2 separate regions of the Homo sapiens genome follow, and region 2 is linked to region 1. Evidence: fine-mapped expression QTL. Tissue or cell type: whole blood. Region 1 holds a variant in brackets; the other region holds the start of a gene. All regions are shown on one strand. Distances are from middle to middle.

Region 1 (10,270 bases):
AATCTTCAATCCCAGAGACCAACAGCAAATGGTTCATTTTTTGTAGGTGAACCAGAGGCATGGTGGAGCCCTCCGTTGGCACCAAGCAGAATTCTTCACTTTCTTACTCTAGATTACTTACCCTGGGACATTTTTGCCTTTTACTTTCTGTCTAGACTCCTGCATGATCTTTGTTTTTACCTGCTCTACTACAGTTATAACTGTTACCATCTTTTCTGAGCCTAAAATCAAGAACCAATACCTGACAAAGAAGTAGATTGTTAAAACCAAGAGTTTCTCTGTATCAGGAAAGTATTCATATGAATTCCTGCCTCCTAATTTATTAGTTGCCCAGCTTTCTGCAACATACCAACTGACCAGAAGATTCACCTGTACACACCACCTGAGTGTTGGGGACTTTTTCTTTCTTGGCCCTCCCACCTCCCACCGTTTTTCTGTTTTGTGTCACTTTCATTTGGTTAATAATATTCTAACAAGATTTGTCATTATAGTTATCTTAGTTTGATGAGATTTTTCTTCATGAAATTGAACAAAAATATCAGTCTTTGTTAATTCTTTATTATTTATTGTTTCGGATGACACAGCAGGAAGGGAAATAGGAAAGGCTCTACATCATTTGTCGTATGTGCTCCACAATTTGCCCTCAAGTTTGAATCCTAGGTCCTACCACCCACACAAAACTGCCATTGCCAGCCTGCTCAATTCTACCCAATCTCTAGCCATTTTCATACTGCAAAGTTCCTATGACCTCCTCCCAAGGAGCTCAATTCTGTACTTTACCTCTTCCTGACCTCCCTGGAATCCACCCCGCCTCCAACCACACTGTAATTAGAATCTGAATTCTGCAACTACCTTGATGTTAGTCTCTGTAGGGGAGCAGCCTGCAGCCTCCTATGGACTCCCATTAAGACAGGATATTCCTTCCGTCTAGGGGGTGCTGATTGCAACTTTTTTGCTAAGATGAAAAGCTGGAGTCGAAATGAGAAGAGAGGAGTTGTGGCAGGTATTTTGTTTTGCAATGGCTCCAGACTGCTCTTCCGTTTGATAAAGTGGCTGTAACTATGTGGGTGGGAACAGTGCAGTTTTTTCTTTATTCTCCCACCCACAAAACCAGGAGGAAATTGGAAGGGCCTCAAATACCAGGGAATGTTTTGGCTAGCTGAAGACGGGGTAAGGTGGGAAGGAGATATTGAGGCAAACATCTTGGGAGAGGGTGAGAATTACAAGGCCAAAATGGATTTCCTTACCAGGCAGGCATATCTCTGCCTTTGTCCTGGCATGGCCTCTACCTAGGATGCCCCAGGGAAAGGATAGTTTGGTTTGCACAGGAGCAGCAGTGATGAAAATCGGAAATGATGAGTGTGGTTGGAGATATTTGTGGCAGGGTTTGTAGGTCTCTTTGAGGGGGCTCAACTCACAAAGTGCAGATTTTTATTAAAATATAAATGCTTGTGGGAAAGGACATTTTCCTACTGAGCAGTGGCAGTCCCATATTTCTTCTCAGATTTAAAAAAAAAAAGGCCTCAGTCTGAAAAGTGAGGAGATGGAGGATTTGAGCACTTACAAGTTCACCTGCATTGCATTTCCCAGAAGATAGAAATCAATGATGCATTTTGAAGATCATGCTGCTAGAGACAGAGAACCACAACTTGAGCTTTTCTCTGGGCTTAGAGAGGAGGTGTATGTCTCGCTGTCAATTCTACATCCAACGCTGGAATCTTTCAGCCCATTTTCCTCCCCGGCTGTTTTTGAACTACTATCCCCAAATATCGAGGATATCTGACAGAGTGAACCATCAGAATAAGGAGCGATTGCCACAGAGTTCCATCCAGTAGGGGAGGGACTTGATGTGCGGGGCAAGCCTGATGCCCGGGTCAGGCGACTGTGCCTTTCATTCTCCACGGAGATCTTGAACCTAGAGTTTCCAAGTTCCGAAGAGATGCGGTTGTCGACAGCTCTCCTAGAATCTCTGATGGCTCTGAACGGGGACAAAGGTCTAGGGCAGAGGGATGGTGTGGAAGGACCCAGCCACGGCCATTGGAAGAGCAGTTTCCTGCAATGTAATGCTGTTTGCGACCAGCATAAGCTTTAGCTCTCTCCCAGGACGAGCCACATCCGCCCCATTCACGGTCCTTATTCCAGCTCCTTTCCCTCTGCGAATCACACTGGGTGGGTCGCTGGGGGCCTCGGTAATTACGGATTATGGCACAGCCAAGAAAAATACAGGTTTTCTTAAGCCTGAAGCCACTGACTTGAGGGGGGAGAGTAGGAGTAATGCCAGCAGCAGTTTTGTATTTGGTTTTTGTTTTTATATTCTAGTCTCTAGGCCACAAGACAATGTTGCACCCAGTGCCAGTCGATCCGTCACGGCGCCGCAAACTTTCCCTGAACGGAGGGTTTGTGGCTGACATCTCTAGTTTCTCAGAGCCTGGGAGTGATCACTGGCTGCACCGCTGATGGCGCCCAAAAGAACGCGCATTTGTCTTTGGCAACAGCGCTGGGTTTCGCCTCGTGCCCGCGCCTGAAGGGTCCTAGCGCCGCCAGATTCTCACACTCGCGGGTCCAGCGCCCAGCGCTGCTCCTCCCACCAGTCATCGGTTTCTCACACGCACTTCATTGGCAGCACTGGCGAGTCAGTTTTCCGGTGGCGGCGGCGCTAGTTGGTCTGCACGAAACGTTTCCCTTCTCGCTCCGTGTGTCCCATTCTCCATCCCACGTCCTCCAGTGCCGGGGTCATGGTCGCAGCACCCGGCGTTCCCGTTGGCTCTTTTGCCGCTGCGCGGAGCCGGCGGTTTTTCTGTCACAGCACTTGTACGGAGTTTCTCGGCGGCCGAACGTCTCTTTTTTTCTCAGAGACGACGGTTTCTTGGTGACAGTACCGTTGGTTGCGCCGTAACGAATGTTCTCCTTGACAGCCCCACCAGCTGGCGTCACTCGCAGGCTCCAGACGCCGCCATTTCGCCAAGCCGAGGTCTCTTGGTTGCGGCACTGCTTCTGGCTCGGTGCCTGTATTTTCTCGGTGCCTACAGCGCCCAGGTCGCCGATCTGAGGGCTTCGGAGTACCGGCCGGGCGCGGTGGCTCACGCCTGTAATCCCAGCACTTTGGGAGGCCGAGGCGGGCGGATCAGGAGGTCAGGAGATCGAGACCATCCTGGCTAACACGGTGAAACCCCGTCTCTACTAAAAATACAAAAAAATTAGCCGGGCGTGGTGGCGGGTCCCTGTAGTCCCAGCTCCTCGGGAGGCTGAGGCAGGAGAATGGCGTGAATCCGGGAGGCGGAGCTTGCAGTGAGCCGAGATCGCGCCACTGCACTCCAGCTTGGGCGACAGAGCGAGACTCCAACTCAAAAAAAAAAAAAAAAAAAAAAAGAAAAGAAAAAGAAATCTGGGTACCCGCGAATGCGATTTTTTTTAGGTTTACCGATGATCAGTTTAGCAGTGCCTGGGAGCTCTTATACCAAGTTTGTTTTCGCAATATTGAGTCCCACCTTAGCTAAGCTTGTGTGTATTTTAAACTCCCATGGAAGTCAGGAAATGTCCGCAAACGCGATTTCTGGTTACCAAGCTCCGTTTGGCAATAGCAAGTCCTGCCGAACGCGACTTTTTCCTCTTGTGGACCAAGTCTGAATAGACCAGCTACTGCGATTTTTAAGTCGTAGTAAAAAAGGTTTAACCGTGACTGCTTTTTTTTGTTGGTGTTGTTTGTTTTTGTTTTTGTTTTCGTAGGAAATGTAGACTTAGGTGTAACATGTACCGGTTTAGATCTGACAGAGATATCACAATTGTAGGATTGCATCTTTTAGCAAGGTTTGTAATTTCTTCTTTCTAGGATTGGTTCTCTGTAATTTTTGCTTATTTTTAAATTCTCTCTTTGTCTTTTGCTCTGAGAACGATGTTACCGATGTGTTTGCTTTCCATGTTTACTTGCATTTTAGCCTTTATTTTTTTAATTTTGATTTTATTTAAATGTTATGTATTTTTTTTCTACTAATTTTGAGCGTCTCAGCTTCCTGCTTCTTTACTTACATTCTCTCAGGATCCGGGGAGCCGAGCTCGGTCTCAGTCTCCCTGCTGTCAGGTGCCAGGTTGTGTCTGGTGGCTCTCCTTCGTATGCGGAGCTGATGGTTTTGCATCAGCGCTTTTGCCAGTAGAGCCGACTAGCGTTTTCTCAGTTACGGCACCGTTCTTAGCGCCCAGTGTGACGTTTCCCATTCGCCAGGTCCTTATGTTCTCTGTGCTGTCACTTTCTTGGTTCTCGCACCGCTAGTATCTGCTAAAGAACTTCCTAAACCATGTTTTACTGTGCAGAACGGTGATTGCACGGAGCCGCTGTACGCACTAGTAATTTCATAGCACCGTTAGCTGGCGCTTTTTCTGTCACAACACATTAAAACGGGTTAAAATACTGCAAGCGGATTAAACACATTAAGAGGATTAAAACATTAAAATGTC[T/TCAACACATTTTTCTGACA]CAACACATTTTTCTGACACAACACATTTAAACGGAGTGGGTTCATTCCTCCGAAGAGGATGTTTAGGCGTGGAAGCACCGCTGTTTCCCAAGAGCACGGTTTCTCTCTGGCAGCACCACTTATGGCACCAAAACAGGTATTTTTTGGCAACACCAGCACTATTCGCTAGGTGCCGGCGCTTGCTGAGTCCCAGCGCCGCCAGTTTCTCTTTCGGTCGTTAAGTAGCTCAGAGCCCTAGCGGACAGTTTTCAGGTGGCAGTAATGCTCATTTCCTGGAACAGATGGTTCGTGGCCCTTGAAGCGCTGCGATCTGTAAAGCTAGTTCTCTGCAAGGTTTGCTTAGTGTCTGTTTTATTTCGGTTTCTTTTCTTGCTATGTTTATCTGTCGGAATTACAGTTTGTTTTGGTTCTATGTAATCTCTAAAATGTTATCGTTTTTCTTTTGACTACTAATTTTTGTGCATTCATTACTATTGAGTTTCATAATACCTGGCTTGCCTCCGCCCACGGCCTCCGGAAAGCATAAATGTCCAGGCTAATGGGAGTGCTGAAGGCTCTGCCTCGTTGATCAGCACAAACGCTTGTGTCCTGCTCTAAGGCTTAAGCGATGGAGCAACGTTTTCTTGGCTGTGCGAAGGGGGCTTGGGATTCCGCAGAGGTGGCGCCAAAGCCCCAGCCTCCACCTGCTCTGGGTTCAGAAGGTTGTGGGCGGTGGCCTCTCCCTTTTTATCCAGTACTGGGAGAGTACTCATTGGACAGCTGTAATTTGGGACTGCTTTCCAGCCCTTGTTAGTGGCTTCAATTAAATACTTTATCAGAAAAATAGAAACTTTAAGCCCAAATGATTTTTCAGGTTCACTTGATTTAAGTAAATCTTTGACAAATAAGCTGCATTTAAAATTATCAGTAAAATAAAATTAGAAATGTCTTCAGAATTGTCAATATACATTATTGTTTAGATTTATTGGTCAGCGGTTTCTGATTTATCTCTGCTAGATATTATAAGGCGTGAAAATTTGGCATGAAGGTTATAAATCTATAAATGCAACCCCAAACAGAATTATCTTTGTTCATGTAATTTTGGTAAATAAGGCATTTAATATCATTGGTTTAAAGAAAACAGCTAAATCTTGGGTTACTGACAGAAGAGAAAAATCCATTTATTTAACCTTAAGGTTCTTACTTAGGTAAACACCTGATATTCACAGTCTATAATAATGGTTGACAGGGACATAACTGTAACTGGCCCATATGTTCATTTTGCCTGTTGCCCAGATAGAGTTGATTTGTCAAGACAGCGAATTGCAATAAAGAGTTTAATATGGGCAGAGTTGGCTAAATTGGAGACCTGAATTTTATTATTACTCAAATCAGCCTCCCAGAAAATTCAGAAGCCAAGGTTTTTCAAGGATAGTTTGGCAGAAGGGTGCTGCTGCTCAGCTGAGGAACAATCACAGGGGTGTGGAAAACAGTCCTCCTGCACTCAGTCCATTTCTTGAGTGGCGGCCACAGAGGAGTGGCTGATGCTGTTGGGGCCATCAAAGTCTGAAAAGTCATCTCAAAAAGCCAAACCTAGGTTCTAGTAATTAGGGAAGTTGCAAATCTTGTGACCTCTGGAATAAAGGCTGGTAATCCTTTAACTATGCCCACATCTTAGCAGAAATCAGGCCCTTCTCATCCTCCTAACCTGGTGGGCTTTCATCAGCTTTACAAAGATGGTTTAGTTTTGGGAAGGGCTATTATCATATAAACTATAAACTAAATTTCTCCCTAAGTTAGGTTGGCCCATGCCCAGATCAAGGGCTGTTTGGAGGTTAAAGGCAAGATGGAGTTCGTTAGGTCAGGTCTCTGTCACTGTCAATATTTTCTCACTGTTAAAATTTTGCAAAGCTGGTTTCATGACTTTAAATGATAGCTAGCTATGTCTAATATCACAGATTTTATAAGTAATCTAGGTAAACTATTTTAAAAAATAAATTAGTTAGGTAAATGTAATGGAATAAATGCTTATAAGTAAACATACAATTTAGAATCTTAAAGTTAAATTAAATAATAGTCATTAAATGTCCAGGTCATGTCCAATTTTTAAAAAATTGTAGGAAAACATTTTTCCAAAAAAAGTGTTCTTATTAAAAGGAAAATAGTTTTGTCTAATTCACAGATTATTTGTGAAACAAGATAAAAGAAACCAGAAAAAAGAGAGAGAGATAGGCCAGGTGTGGTGGTCTGTAATCCCAGCATTTTGGGATGCTAAGGGGGGCAGATCATTTGAGATCAGGAGTTCAAGACCAGTCTGGCCAATATGGTGAAACCCCGTCTCTGACAAAAATACAAAAATTAGGCCAGGCACAGTGGCTCACGCCTGTAATCCCAGCACTTTGGGAGGCCAAGAAGATGGATCACGAGATCAGGAGATCGAGACCATTCTAGCTAACATGGTGAAACCCCGTCTCTACTAAAAACACAAAAATTAGCAGGGCGTGGTAGTGGGCACCTGTAGTCCCAGCTACTTGGGAGGCTGAGGCAGGAGAATGGCGTGAACCTGGGAGGTGGAGCTTGCAGTGAGCTGATATCGCACCACTGCACTCCAGCCTGGGCAACAGAGCAAGACTCCATCTCAAAAAAAAAAAAAATTATGTTATCTAGTTGGCTATAAATAAAAGGAAATTACAACAGTCTTTCTAGAGATTGGGCTTTGATACAAAAAAATACATTAATACTCAAAAGACTTGGTTAGAACAACATTTTTGTAAAATATTATTTACTCTTAATAAGTTATATTTTAATTTACCCAAATTTTCAACTTTTATTGCATCTCAATGTTTTCAGCTTTCTCTCTATTATTTATTTATTATTATTATTATTATTTTCTGTCTTTTTTTTAAGACGGAGTCTTGCTCTGTCACCATGCTGGAGTGCAGTGGTGAGATCTAGGCTCACTGCAACCTCCACCTCCCAGGTTCAAGCGATTCTCCTGCCTCAGCCTCCCAAGTAGCTGGGACTACAGGTGCACACCACCACGCCCAGCTAATTTTTGTATTTTTAGTAAAGATGGCGTTTCACCATGTTGGTCAGGGTGGTCTCCATCTCTTAACTTCGTGATCTGCCCGCCTCAGCCTCCCAAAGTGCCGGGATTACAGGCTTGAGCCACTGCGCCAGGCCTCTCTCCTTTTTAAGGCCTGAGATAATAACTTTCCCTTCAACTTTTTTGTCAGCTCCTGTAACTTTTTTCCTTAGGTTTTAACTGTTGTTGTGGTCTGATGCTAAAAAACACTTCATCTTTAGGATCAAAACGAAATGTATTCTTCCAATATAACATTCTGTGCTCTTGACTTTTTAAAATATATCTAAATTGTTCTATGAAACCAAAAAACTTCACTTATGTCCTGGGACACACTCTTCCTATGTCTAATTAATTCAAGTGCCCTTTTCATTAGTTTTGACTTGAAGGTTGTCTAAATGGAATCCCATATGGAAAAGCACATCCTTTTTTGCCTTTTGGTAGCCAGCCTGAGAATAACATATTTTACATTTTATCAAAATAATTCCTATGTCATTACTAGGTTTTTATTTGCTCAGAAAAACTGAGATTTAAGGAGGCTGAGGCAGGCATATCACGAGGTCAGGAGTTCAAGACCAGCCTGGCCAACACAGTGAAACCCAGCTCTACTAAAAATACAAAAAATTAGCCAGAAGTGGTGGCGGGTGCCTGTAATCCTAGCTACTAGGGAGGCTGAGGCAAGAGAATCACTTGAACCTGGGAGGCGAAGGTTGCAGTAAGCCAAGATCGAGCCACTGCATACCAGCCTGGGTGACAGTGTGCGACTCTGTCTCAAAAAAAAAGAAAAGAAAAAGAAAAGAAAACTGAGATTTAAAAAAATTAAGGTTAATTAAGGTTATTATATCCATGTAACTTTCTGTATTTCTTTTAAAGTTCTTGTGCTACTAATTTTCAGGGCTTTGACTCCTGAGTCTAAAAAGGTCACTAACTCCCGCTAAATTGAGAGCAATTGAAGCCTCATCTTCAGATCTAGGAGAAGATGAAAATCAGAATAAGCTGCAGTCATGAGACATGGCGCCAGAAATTAAGACTATTCAAACCCTCTAGTCCCAGGGACTATTGAAGAAGAAGTGGGTGTGTAAGCTTGTAAGGACCTATTTTAACAGATAAAATTAGTTCAGTTTCTGTATAATTTATAGATAATTTAATTTAAAGAGTTTTTTTTTTTTTTCCAGATAAGGTCTAGATCTGTCACCCAGGCTGGAGTACAGTGGCATAGTCCTAGCTCACTGCAACCTCCACCTCCCAGGCTCAAGTGATCCTACCACCTCAGCCTCCTAAGAAGCTGGGACTATAGATGTGCACCAACACGCATGGCTAATTTTTGTATTTTTTGTAGACACCGTGTTTCGCCATGTTGCCCAGGCTGGTCTCAAACTCCTGAGCTCAAGCAGTCTGCCTGCCTAGACCGCCCAAAGTGCTGAGTTTACAGGTGCGAGCCACCACAGCCAGCCTATAAAGTAAACGTGAATATCTAAGGAACACTGATGCAAGACCAGCATGTGGGACCCCATGTAAGATTAACAATGTTTTCATGGATCATTAACCCATTCTTATTAAAAAAATTATGAAAGATTATGAAAAGGTTTACAAAAGTTGTATCTTATGGTCAAGATGATTAAAATTTATTAGATTTGTCTATAATATCTGAGAAAGATTTGATTGGCTTCATGCTGTCTTTATTAGCTCTTATTGTTTGGGAAAGCAAGTCTCAAAGAGTGAAAGGTTTTGGCTTTTAGTTTTTGAAAACTTTGAGTTACTGCTTAACTAAATGAATGACTTATTTTTTACAATGACCTGTTGTGGGAAGTCAGGGACCCCAAACGGAGGGACCGGCTGAAGCCATGAAAGAAGAACGTGGATTATGAAGATTTTATGGACATTTATTAGCTCCCCAAATTAATACTTTTGTAATTTCTTATGCCTGTCTTTACTGCAATCTCTAAACATAAATTGTAAAGATTTCATGGACACTTATCACTTCCCCAATCAATACCCTTGTGATTTCCTATGCCTGTCTTTACTTTAATCTCTTAATCTTGTCAGTTGAGGAGGATGTATATCATCTCAGGACCCTGTAATAATTGCGTTAAGTACACAAATTGTACAGCATGTGTGTTTGAGCAATATGAAATGTGGGCACCCTGAAAAAAGAACAGGGTAACAGCAATTGTTCAGGGAATAAGAGAGATAACCTTAAACTCTGACCGCCGGTGAGCCGGGCAGAACAGAGCCATATTTCTCTTCTTTCAAAAGCAAATGGGAGAAATATCGCTGAATTCCGTCCCTGAGAAAGAGAATGCGCACCTAGGGGTAGGTCTCTGAACTGGCCGCCCCGGGGCGTACCTGTCTCTTATGGTCGAGATTGCAGAGGTGAAATAAACTCCAGTTTCCCATAGCGCTCCCAGGCTTATTAGGAAGAGGAAATTCCCGCCTAATAAACTTTGGTCAGACCAGTTGATCTCAAAACCCTGTCTCCTGATAAGATAATATCAGTGACAATGGTGCCAAAACTTCATTAGCAATTTTAATTTCGTTTCGGTCCTGTGGTCCTGTGATCTCGCCCTGCCTCCACTTGCCTTGTGATATTCTATTACCCTGTTAAGTACTTGATGTCTGTCACCCACACCTATTCGCACACTCCCTCCCCTTTTGAAAATCCCTAAAAAAACCTGCTGGTTTCGGTGGCTTGTGGGGCATCACAGATCCTACCAATGTGTGATGTCTCCCCCGGACGCCCAGCTTTAAAATTTCTC
Region 2 (10,270 bases), 21 kb after region 1:
GCTTTCTTCAGGTGCCAGGTCTGGAGTGCTGGTGCACCTATCTCAAAACGCTGTCTCAAAACTCCAACAGGGAGCACCTAACGGTACTGGGTGCAACATTGCTAGCACGGAGCAAACAGCAGTCCAGTAACCTGGAACAACAGGCTCTGCGAAACCAAGGACTCTGACAAAGAAAAATTGCCAATTCCAAACATAGCCTGTTTTAGAGAAATGAATGGCGTTGTCATCGAAAAAACACAGACTCGATTGTGACAGAAATACCGCCACAAACGCAGGTACAGGGACAGCCGACACCGAGAACCAAGGGAAGCGGCTGAGAGCTGCGCCTCCACGGAATAACTGCCAGCCGGCACAGTGCGAGTGAGAAACCGGCCACTCCATGAAACGACCAGTACTGCCACGGAAAAGAATCCGACGTCGCCAACAAGCGGTGCTACCAGGAGAAACGCCTGCTTTTGAAGAAAACAGCCAGGAACGCGACTGAAAGACACTTGCTCCCAGGAAGAATTGGCATTTGTTCCAAAACACAGCTGGATAAACCGAGAACCTTCGGAGTGGTTGCACCGAAACGGGGTCACCCAGCACCTCAGCGTCCTGGGCTCTAGCAAGCCTCACAGAAGCAACCGGCAGTGCTAACACCGAGGAGCACCTAGAGCGGCAAAACTAGCAGTAATGCCATCGACGAAAGGCCAGTTAGGCCAAAAGAATAGAATATTTAGTTCCGGGAATTACAGGCCAGCGCAAACCAGACAGCATAAAGCTGAGGGTCAGCAAAACAAAAATTAGGAACAATTTTTTTTTAAAGGGCAAGTTAGCTGAAAAACACACGCACACACAATAAAAACAATACATTTGGGAAGATTCATCAAATGAAAATTCAAAACTAAGCAAAACATGGAAAAATGGACTCTACAAAGAAGAAAATGCAAACACTTCTAAACAATGTGGTTTCACAGAGGTAATATCGCTGTCAGGCCTATATCAGTATCTGCTCGGTCTCACCAGGACTTCTAACTAAGGGACTGCAGACACTGCTAAACCGCTACTTGCTACTCCTAAAATATCTTCTTCACCTACGTGCCCGGACTTCTATATTTAAAACTCAGGCATAAGTAAAGCAGGGTAAGTTATTATGAAACCGAAAGTTACTGGGACTAAGGAGTCGCAGGCATGGCTATGCTAGTACTGGTTGCGACCAAATATGGACTTGCAAGAGCTAAGAAATCACATTCACAGGGGCACTTAAAATCGAAGCATGCACTTGTTACTCTAAGAAATCCCTAACCCAGGACTCGCTCAGAATATTTCGAACGCAGAATTAAGCATCTTTATCGCAGGCGAAATAAGCCGATACTTATTCCGCTTAAGTCCGAACTTGCTATGCAGAGAAACCACAATCAGGGCTACATTCCGAGTGTAGGAGGTTTAAAACTCCCGAAAAGGCAGTCAAAGCAGGCAGGGCCAAGCCGGACCTGCTGTGCCTACCCGAATTGCTAAACCCAGTTGTGGTACCATTAAGTAACTGGTAGTTCTCTTATAAGCCAAGCTAAACTGTTCCAAAGAAAAAGACGCTGGAAACACTGCTAGCCCTGAGACCCATGAATAAGTAGTCTTTTCAATTATTTATTTATTTTGAGACAGGCTCTCGCTCTGCTGGAGGGCGTTGGTGCTATCCGGCTCACCGCAGCCTCGACCTCCTGAGCTCAAGCAACCCGCCCACCCCAGCCTCCGGAGCAGCTGGGACTACAGGTGCACACCATCTCACAGGGCTAACTTTTGCATTTTTTGTAGACACAGGCCTCACCCTGTCGCCCAGGCTTTTCTCAAACTCCTGAGCTCAAGCAATCCGCATGCCTCCGCTGCTGAAAGTGCTGGGATTACTGCCGTGAGCCACGCTGCCCCGCCAGAATAAGTAATCTTAAGAACTGGTCATCTGTGAAGTTGTATTAATATAAGTAATTGCGTGGTCCTTCCACGAGAAATAGCAAAGATTGATAAACCTCTCAGTCTTATGATCGTGAATAAAATTCCTGAGTGTAAAACAATGAATCGATATACTGAAAAAAAGAAAGACCGCTGTTAAAAATAAAATTAACAATTAAAATTAAAAAGACGTTATAATAACGTAAAAGACATGATATAAAATTAAATGTAAACAAACAATACATTTAAAAAGCAATAATTAGAAAAATAGTAGGAATAAGATTTTAAAATACAATGGAAAAAAACAAATTTTAAATTTGCCAAAAACTCTAAGAATTCTACAATCGTAAAATAGATTTCTCAAAGTGAAAACAGATACGAATGAAATATTTAATGAAATAAATACAAATATTTAAAATACAAGGAAACTGAAAGTAATAAGCGACGCGAAACAAGAAAGAAACATAAGGGAAAAAGAGAATTTAAAAACTGACAACCAGCAATGAAAGCACATCTTAATGTATTTTTATTTTCTAGGTGGAGACGTTTGGTAACTGAGAATCTTTTCAAGGAGGAGAATCCAAAAAGCCTTCTGCTGCTATCTAAGGCTGCTTAGCTCCACAGATCCGTGAACAGCACGCCCAGAGTACAGAGAACGCGGCAAAACCAACGCGAAGAATCCACTCCAGGCAGTCTGAGAAACCCGGGAGGTGGCGCCACGGCTGGAGGGCAGGAGGATGGCGGCGTTCCAAAAGGCACCCGCTGTCACAGACCTCGGTGTCCTGCTGTCTGTCCCAGGGATGGAGAGGACTGCTCCAGGGAAGCTGCTGGAGCCTGAGTCTGTCGGGTTCCTCTGCCTGCCCCACCTCTTCTACGGGTGCCTCTTGCTGCTTCTGTGTCCCCGGCCAACTGAACTCAGTGGGCTTCGCTGTACTTGGTTCCAAGGTGCTCTGGACTCCAGGAGAGAGTCCGTTTTGCCAGTAGACTCCGGGCAGCCGCCAGCAAGGGCTGGAAAGCAGTCCCAAATCACAGCTGTCCAGTGAGTACTCTCCTAGTACTGGATACAAAGGAAGAGGCCACGGCCCACGATCTTCTGAACTCACAATAGGTGGAGGCTGGGGCTCTGGCGCCACCTCTGCGGAATCCCAAGCCCGCTTCACACAGCCAAGAAAATGTTGCTCCATCCCTCAAGCCTCAGACCAACGTTTGCGCTGATCAAGGAGGGAGAGTCTCTGCACTACCATCAGCCTGAGTATTTATGCTCTGCAGAGCCCGTGGGCGGAGGCCAGTCAGATATTAAGAAACTCAGTAGTAACAAATGCACGAAAATTAGTAGACAAATGAAAAACGATAACATTTTAGAGAGTACATAGAACCAAAACGAACCGTAATTCCGACAGAAAAACATGGCGAGAAAAGAAACCGAAATGAAATGACACTAAGCAAATCTTGAAGAGAACTAGCGCTACAGAACGCAGGTATTCAAGAGCGCGCAAGGGCCAAGAACCACCCGTTTCCGGGAAATGAGCGTTGCTGCCACCGGAAAACTGTCTGCTAGGGCTCTGCCCTAACCACCTTGCAAACGAGAAACTGGCGCGTTGAACTTAGCAAGCGCCGGCACCTAGCGGATAGCGCTGGTATTGCCAAACAAATATCCGTTTTGGCGCCGTAAAGGGTGCTGCTAAAGAGAAACAGCATGCTCTTAGAACTAAGAGCGGTGCTTCCACACCTAAACAACCTGTTTGGAGGAATGAACCAACTCTGTTTCAATGTGTTGTACCAGAAAAATGTGTTGCGGCATTTAATGTGTTTTAATCCGTTCAATGTGTTTGATAGGTTTAATATGTTTTAACCCGTTTTAATGGGTTGTGACAGAAAAAGCGCCGGCTAATGGTACCACACAATTACTAGTGCGAACAGCGGCTCGGTGCAATCACCGTTCTGCACGGCAAAACGGGGTTCAGGAAGTTCCTAGGAGATACTAGCGGTTGTAGGAGCGAAAAAGTGACAGCACTGAGAACCTAAGGACCCCGCGAACGGGAAATGTCACGTTGGGTGCAGCAACTGAGAAAACGCCCAGTGGGCGCCACTGGCAAACGTGCTGATACAAAACCGCCAGCTCTGCATAGGAAGCGGAGCCTCCAGACAGAACCCGGAACCTGATACCAGCGAGGCTAAGACCGAGCTCGGCTCCCCGGCTCCTGAGAGAATGAAAGTCAAGAAGCACGAATCTGAGACGCTCAAAATTAGAAGAAAAAAAAAATACATAATTTAAAATAATGAAAGTCTGAAATGCAAGTAAAAATGAAAAACACATCGGTAACATTGTCCTCAGAGCAAGACACAAAAATAATTTTAAGGTAAGCAAAAGTTACAGAGAACCAACCCTACAAAGAAGAAATTACAAATATGGCTAAGCGATGCAATGCCTACCATTAGAATATTTCTGTCAGATCTAAACCCCTGCAGGTTGCTCCTGTCATAATTTCCTACGAGAAAAAAAACAAAAATATCCACGGTTAAACGTGTTTAGCTACGTCTAAAAAATCGTAGTAGCTGGTACATCCCGATTTGGTCTACAAGAGGAAAAAGTCTCGATGGGCAGGACTTGCTATTGTCAAAGGGAGCTTGGTAAAACTGAGACATCGCGATCGCCGGCATTTCCTGACTTCCACGGGAGTTTTAAAAACACACAAGCATAGCTAAGACAGGACTCGATATTGCGAAACCAAACTTGGTATAAGAGCTCCCAACACTGCTAAACTGGTCATCGCTAAACCTTTAAAAAAAAAAAAAAAGCATTCGCTGGTACCCAGATTTCCACAGGAGTTAAACATTTCCTGCGCAGCTAAAGCAAGTCTTACCAGTAGGAAACCGGAACTTGCTAGGACTAAGAAACTTGAGGCTAGGCTGACCCCATGGTTGTTATGATTAGAAATCCGAGGCCACTGGAAACCCGGAGCTGCTGACCAACGAGTCACAGGGTAACTTCGCCTTCGCATGGGGAAACGGGTGAGTTCCTACGGCCTAGATATCGCAGCCAGGGCTAGACCGGTGTTTGTCTTAAGTCAGGACTTGCTTGGGCTGAGAAAATACATTTTGGCTATTCCCCTACTTGGACAGAGGGTGGAAATCCCAGGCACCGCGAAATCGAAACTTGCTAGGACTAAGAAGCCAACGACGCGCGAAACCGTGGGGTCCTGCGACAGAGACGCCGGCGGCGCCGCCACAGGACTGCGTTCTGGAGGCCGAGCCGGAACCCGTGCGGCGGCGCTGGGAAGAGACTGTGCCCCTGCAGCTCCCCTGTCACCGGCTCCAAGGAGCGTCGGGCTCCCCCCGCCCAGCCCTGCAGCACCCATCCGGCAACGCCAGACTCGGCGCAACGGGGGCAGCTGCGACTTTAAATCTCTCAGATCCGCGGCCTGAGGGCTGCCGCCACCGAGAAATGGAGGCACAGAGCTGTGAACAAGAGACCACGGCTCGCCGAAATGGCGGTGCCAGGAGCCTGAAAGGGAATGCAGCCGGCGGGGTTGTCAAGGACAACATTTGTTTTGGCGCAACCAGCGGTGCCGTCACCAAGAAACCGTCGACTCTGAGAAAAAAAGAGAAGTTCGGCTACCGAGAAACTCCGTGCAGCAAGTGCTGTGACAGCAAAACCGCCGGCTTCGCGCCGCTGGCGAAAGAGCCAACGGAAACGCCGGGTGCTGCGACCGCGAAGCCGGCACTAGAGGGCCTCGGATGGAGAAAGCCCCGCACCGAGACGAGGAAACTGTGCACAGCACGACTAGCAGTTGACACAAACAGAAAAGTGTCTCGTCTGCTCTCTGGGAGAAAGCGTGGATCAAAACCAGCAACTCAGTGGAGAGAACCCCGCAGCCACTGAAGAAGTTGCCCACGTGGCGGTGGGGCCAGAGAAACACCGCGATTTCGACGACAGCCGTAGGGATACCACAGAGAAACATGCGCGGCCACAGAAGTACATCCAGCTCCGCGCAATCAGTGGTTCTGCGATCCAGAAACCGCCAGCTGGGCTAGACTAGAAACTTCTAAAAAACTGTCGTCCCATAGCAGCTTTCCTAACCACGACAGACAGTCGCCTTTAGAGAGCACCTAACGGTGCTGAGACCGGCCTGGGCCAGCAAAAGCGCAGAGCGGTGCCAGTGCCAAGAAACGCCCGACTTGGTGAAACCAACCTTGTGACCACCGATTCCACTGGCTTCGCAGGACGCAACGGGCGAAGGCGCGGCGGAGAAACCGCAGGCTCCCTTCACCGATTATGCTGCGGGCTGGGGATGGTGGGGGGCACCCGCGAAATTGTGAAACCAGCGGCGCTGGGACCCAGCGATCAGCTGCCCGTAGCAAATGTCTGTGCAGTTGCAAAAGATAATTTTTGGCCGTGAGAAGGTTGCCGCCAGAGAGCGTCCGATAACGCTGACAAAGGCGTGGCGTTGCCAGTGAGAAACAGCCGGCGCTGGGAAAGGAACGGTGCAGCGACCGACCAACTGCGCGCTCGGTGCCACCAAAGTGCTACTGGCTCTACCCACTCTGTCCCCCACGGGCTTAGGGAAGTCTGATGTCTTTTTCTTTTCTTTTTTCCTCTGTCGCCTAGGCTGGTGCAGTGGTGTCATCTTGGCTCAGTGCAGCCTCGACTTCCTGGGATCCAGCGATCCTCCCGCTTCAGCCTCTAGAGTAGCCGAGACCACAGGTGAGTGCTACCACCCCCGTCTAATTTATATATATTTATATATATAAATATATATATTAAAATATATATTTTATATTTATATATAATATAAATAAATATATAAATATAAATATATATTTTTATATATTATATAAAATATATAAATATATATTTATTTATATATTATATATAATATATATATTATATAATATATATATTATATAATATATATATAATATATAATATATATATTATATATAAAATATATTATATATAATATATATAATATATTATATATTATATATTATATATAATATATATAATATATTATATATAATATATAATATATAATATATTATATATAATATATAAAATATATAAAATATAGTATATAATATATAAAATATATTATATATAATATATAATATATAAGATATATAATATATTATATATAATATATTATATATAATATATTTTATATAGTATATAAAATATAAAATATATATTATATATAAAATATATATTATATATAAAATATATATTATATATAAAATATATATTATATATGAAATATATATATATAAATATATATATATTAGTGACGGCGGTCTCGCTATGTTGCCCAGGCTGGTCTCGAACTCCTGAGCTCAAGCGATTCGCCCGCCTGGGCCTCCCAAAGTGCTGGGATCACAGGCGTGGGCCACCGAGGCCCGCAGGAAGTCTGTATTGTTCTTGCATTCCACCCAGTGCATTACGCAGGGGGAGAGTAGTGGGCTTATGCGCCGAGAACCAAGCAGATCCTGTTGGTCCCAGGAACAAAGTATAAACCATTCTGGTCGCCAACAGCTTCCTACGCAGGAAACAGCCATCCACCCTCTGTGACTGGGCTTTTCCAGGTCACCCCTCGCTGCCAGGCTCTCTTCCCGGTCCAGAGCCCACAGGATCCTACAGGAGGGGCCAACAACTGCTTGCCTTTGAAACTTGAAACTCTCGGTCTAAGGTTCCTTAGGAGCGTAAAAGGCACAGCGTTTTCTGATCGCAGCTTCAGGTCTCCCGCCCCTGTCCCGGTACCTCTCCTGCAGGACGGAACTCTGTGGGAACGCTCGTTGATTCTGATGGTTAACTGTCAGATATCCTTGATATTGGACATAGGATTTGGAAGAGGGCAGGAGAGAAAAATGAACTGCAAGACTCCAGCACAAGAGGTGGGATTGCTGGCAGATGTCTGCTCCCTCTCCAAACCTAATGAACATCTCAAAGTGCCATCCACTTTCCTATACCCTTGATCTGTGAAATGGATCACTGACGCTTTCTCTGTCTTTCCGGAAATGCAAAACAGGTGAATTTTCAAGCGCTTGAATTGTCTCTCACACTTTTCAGTCAAGAGTGGGGCTATAAACTCCTTCCTCATAGGAAATAAGGAACTGCCACTGCTTGGAAGTAAAACGTATTTTTCCCATAAGCTTTCACATTTCCCAAAAAAAATTATACATCCAGATGTAATCCCCCTAAGAGGCTTACAGACCCTACCAGGAGCGTTCCCACGCGAACGCATCATCTCCCAATCGGATCCTGAAAACACCATGCAACCAATTCCATCCTTTTCTGGATCAACCTGGGCAGAGGACAGGTGCAGAGGAGCCCAGAGAAGGGCCTTGACAAGTCAGGAGACCCAATTTGGGGTCGCAATTGTCACTCACTCCCCAGGCGTTTGCTTTGATCTTCCCCTCCCACCATACTACTTCTTCTGCTACCTGGTTTCTCCCTGGTATTTGAGGATCCTCCAATTGCCTTCTGGTCTTACAGACGGGAGAATAAAGGAAAAATGGCATCGTTTCCACCTTAAAAGTTACAAGCACTTCACCAGATGGTACAGCCTAGGTAGAGCCTTTGTAAAACAAATGCCCGCCCACTGCTTCACCCTCCTCATTTCCACCTCAGCAAAGCATTTTAGCAGAAAAGCTGACCCAGAGCAGTAGCTCCCTGCTATAATCCTAGCACTTTGGGAGGCTAAGTCAGGAGTATCTCTTTAGCCCAGAAGTTCAATACCACCCTAAGCACAAAGTGAGATCCTGCCTCTACCAAAAAAAGAAAAAAAAAATTGAAAAATTAGTCGGATTTGGTCTCGAGTGCCTGTAGTCCCAGCTACTCGGGAAGCCGAAGTGGGAGGATCTCTTGAGCCCTAGAGATGCAGGCTGCAGTGAATGGTGATCTGGGACCGCATCACTGCAGTTCAGTCTGGGTGACAGAGGGAGACGTTGTCTCAGAAAATAAAATAAAATAAAAAATAACATAACTGGGATTACAAGCTCTGTAAGAAGGGGTCACCTGAGACATTATTACATATACCATTAACAGAGGAAAATGCTGCAAATTATACTGTGTCCCAATGGTAAGAGGCCACCCATTTAAAAATATATACATATTTCAGAGATACTAAATGAGAAAAATGTTTACCCTAGAACTGATTAAATTCAGGTATCCACTCCTTTATTTTCAATCTTTAGTGCCATTTTTTAGTTTGTTTATGTCTTGAAAATAGCATAGAGATTAGAGTTGTAATTCTTTATTTTTTAAATTATTTTTATTTTGTTCACTTATTTATTTATTTTTGAGACAGAATCTTGCTCTGTCACCCAGGCTGGAATGCAGTGGCACGATCTCAGTTCACTGTAACCTCTGCTTCCGAGGTTCAAGCCATTCTTGTGCCTCAGCCTCCAGAGTAGCTGGGACCACTGGCTCCTGCCACAACACCCGGGTAATTTTTGTATTTTTAGAAGAAACGGGGTTTCACCATGTTGGCCAGGCTAGCCTTGAACTCCTGATCTCATGTGATCCACCCACCTCGGCCTCCCAAAGTGCCAGGATTACAGGCATGAGCCACCATGCCAAGCCAAGTTGTAATTTTTTGAAACCTATTTTTTGATTGTATTTGTTTTTTTCATAGCTCAATACACTGAAATGGTTGGGTAAGTGGGAAAATCATCTTCCCCACTCCTCCAGTATCTGTAAGGTGCAATTTCTCATAAACACTTTCAGCTTCTTGCCTCCCCTTTTAGTTCTTCTCACATATTGTGTGGTTTGTGGCATGAAAATCATTATTTGTGACAGACACCATACCAACTATATTTTGTGCTTTATCTTGTTTCATTCTCAACCGAAAAATGTGGTGAGCACATGCTTTGTGCTGGGCTTTCTTCTTAGTTCTCTCCATTTTGTAGATGCACAGCCTCACTTAGGGAAGTTGGAGTGCATATAGCTCTGTCTGTGGCTGAATAGATAAATGTAATTTTAGCATTCAATGTTAAGAAATCAACTCTTGGTGCAAATTTAAGGCTCATCTTCTAATGTAGTGTGTGTGTGTGTGTGTGTGTGTGTGTGTGTGTGTGTGATTTTACTGTGTCCCTTCTCCCTAACACTCCAGTTCAAGATAGCAACCTAAGTTCTGAGTTGATTATTCTGGACACACTCTCTCAAAATTTGACTGTTGGACACCAGAATACACCACCCCAATATACCAATATACCTCTGGCATATTGATTATTTCAGGCCTAGCATGGTAGCTCACACCTGTAATCCTAGTGCTTCGGGAGCCCAGGAGTTCATCAGCAGGCTGGGCACATAAGGGGTCCCATCTCTACAAAAGTATTTTTTAAAAATTAG

What was found.
Region 2: ANXA2R starts here. The variant in region 1 is fine-mapped to the expression of ANXA2R in whole blood (INTERVAL, PIP 0.96).

Annotation. Positions count from the first base shown.
Region 1 is chr5:43,015,510-43,025,779 of GRCh38, forward strand. The region is part of intron 2 of ANXA2R-OT1 (ANXA2R overlapping transcript 1); the gene reads right to left. LOC105374748 (a long non-coding RNA gene) reads left to right here and starts at 2,636. Exons shown (of 3, transcript NR_188279.1): 1 at 2,636-3,163; 2 at 3,727-3,807; 3 at 8,690-10,270. RefSeq lists enhancers at 129-178, 1,965-2,204, 2,603-3,125, 2,665-2,804, 4,872-4,921. The variant T/TCAACACATTTTTCTGACA (reference allele first, on the strand shown) is at 4,453.
Region 2 is chr5:43,036,940-43,047,209 of GRCh38, forward strand. It overlaps ANXA2R (annexin A2 receptor), which reads right to left and starts at 3,380. Exons shown (of 1, transcript NM_001014279.3): 1 at 2,432-3,380. The coding sequence starts at 3,107. The coding sequence ends at 2,526. The region is part of intron 2 of ANXA2R-OT1 (ANXA2R overlapping transcript 1); the gene reads right to left. ANXA2R-AS1 (ANXA2R antisense RNA 1) reads left to right here and starts at 5,195. Exons shown (of 2, transcript NR_015447.1): 1 at 5,195-6,628; 2 at 7,504-8,329. RefSeq lists enhancers at 2,262-2,802, 2,494-2,543, 2,564-2,973, 2,984-3,033, 4,689-4,768 and 7 more and a silencer at 3,374-3,643.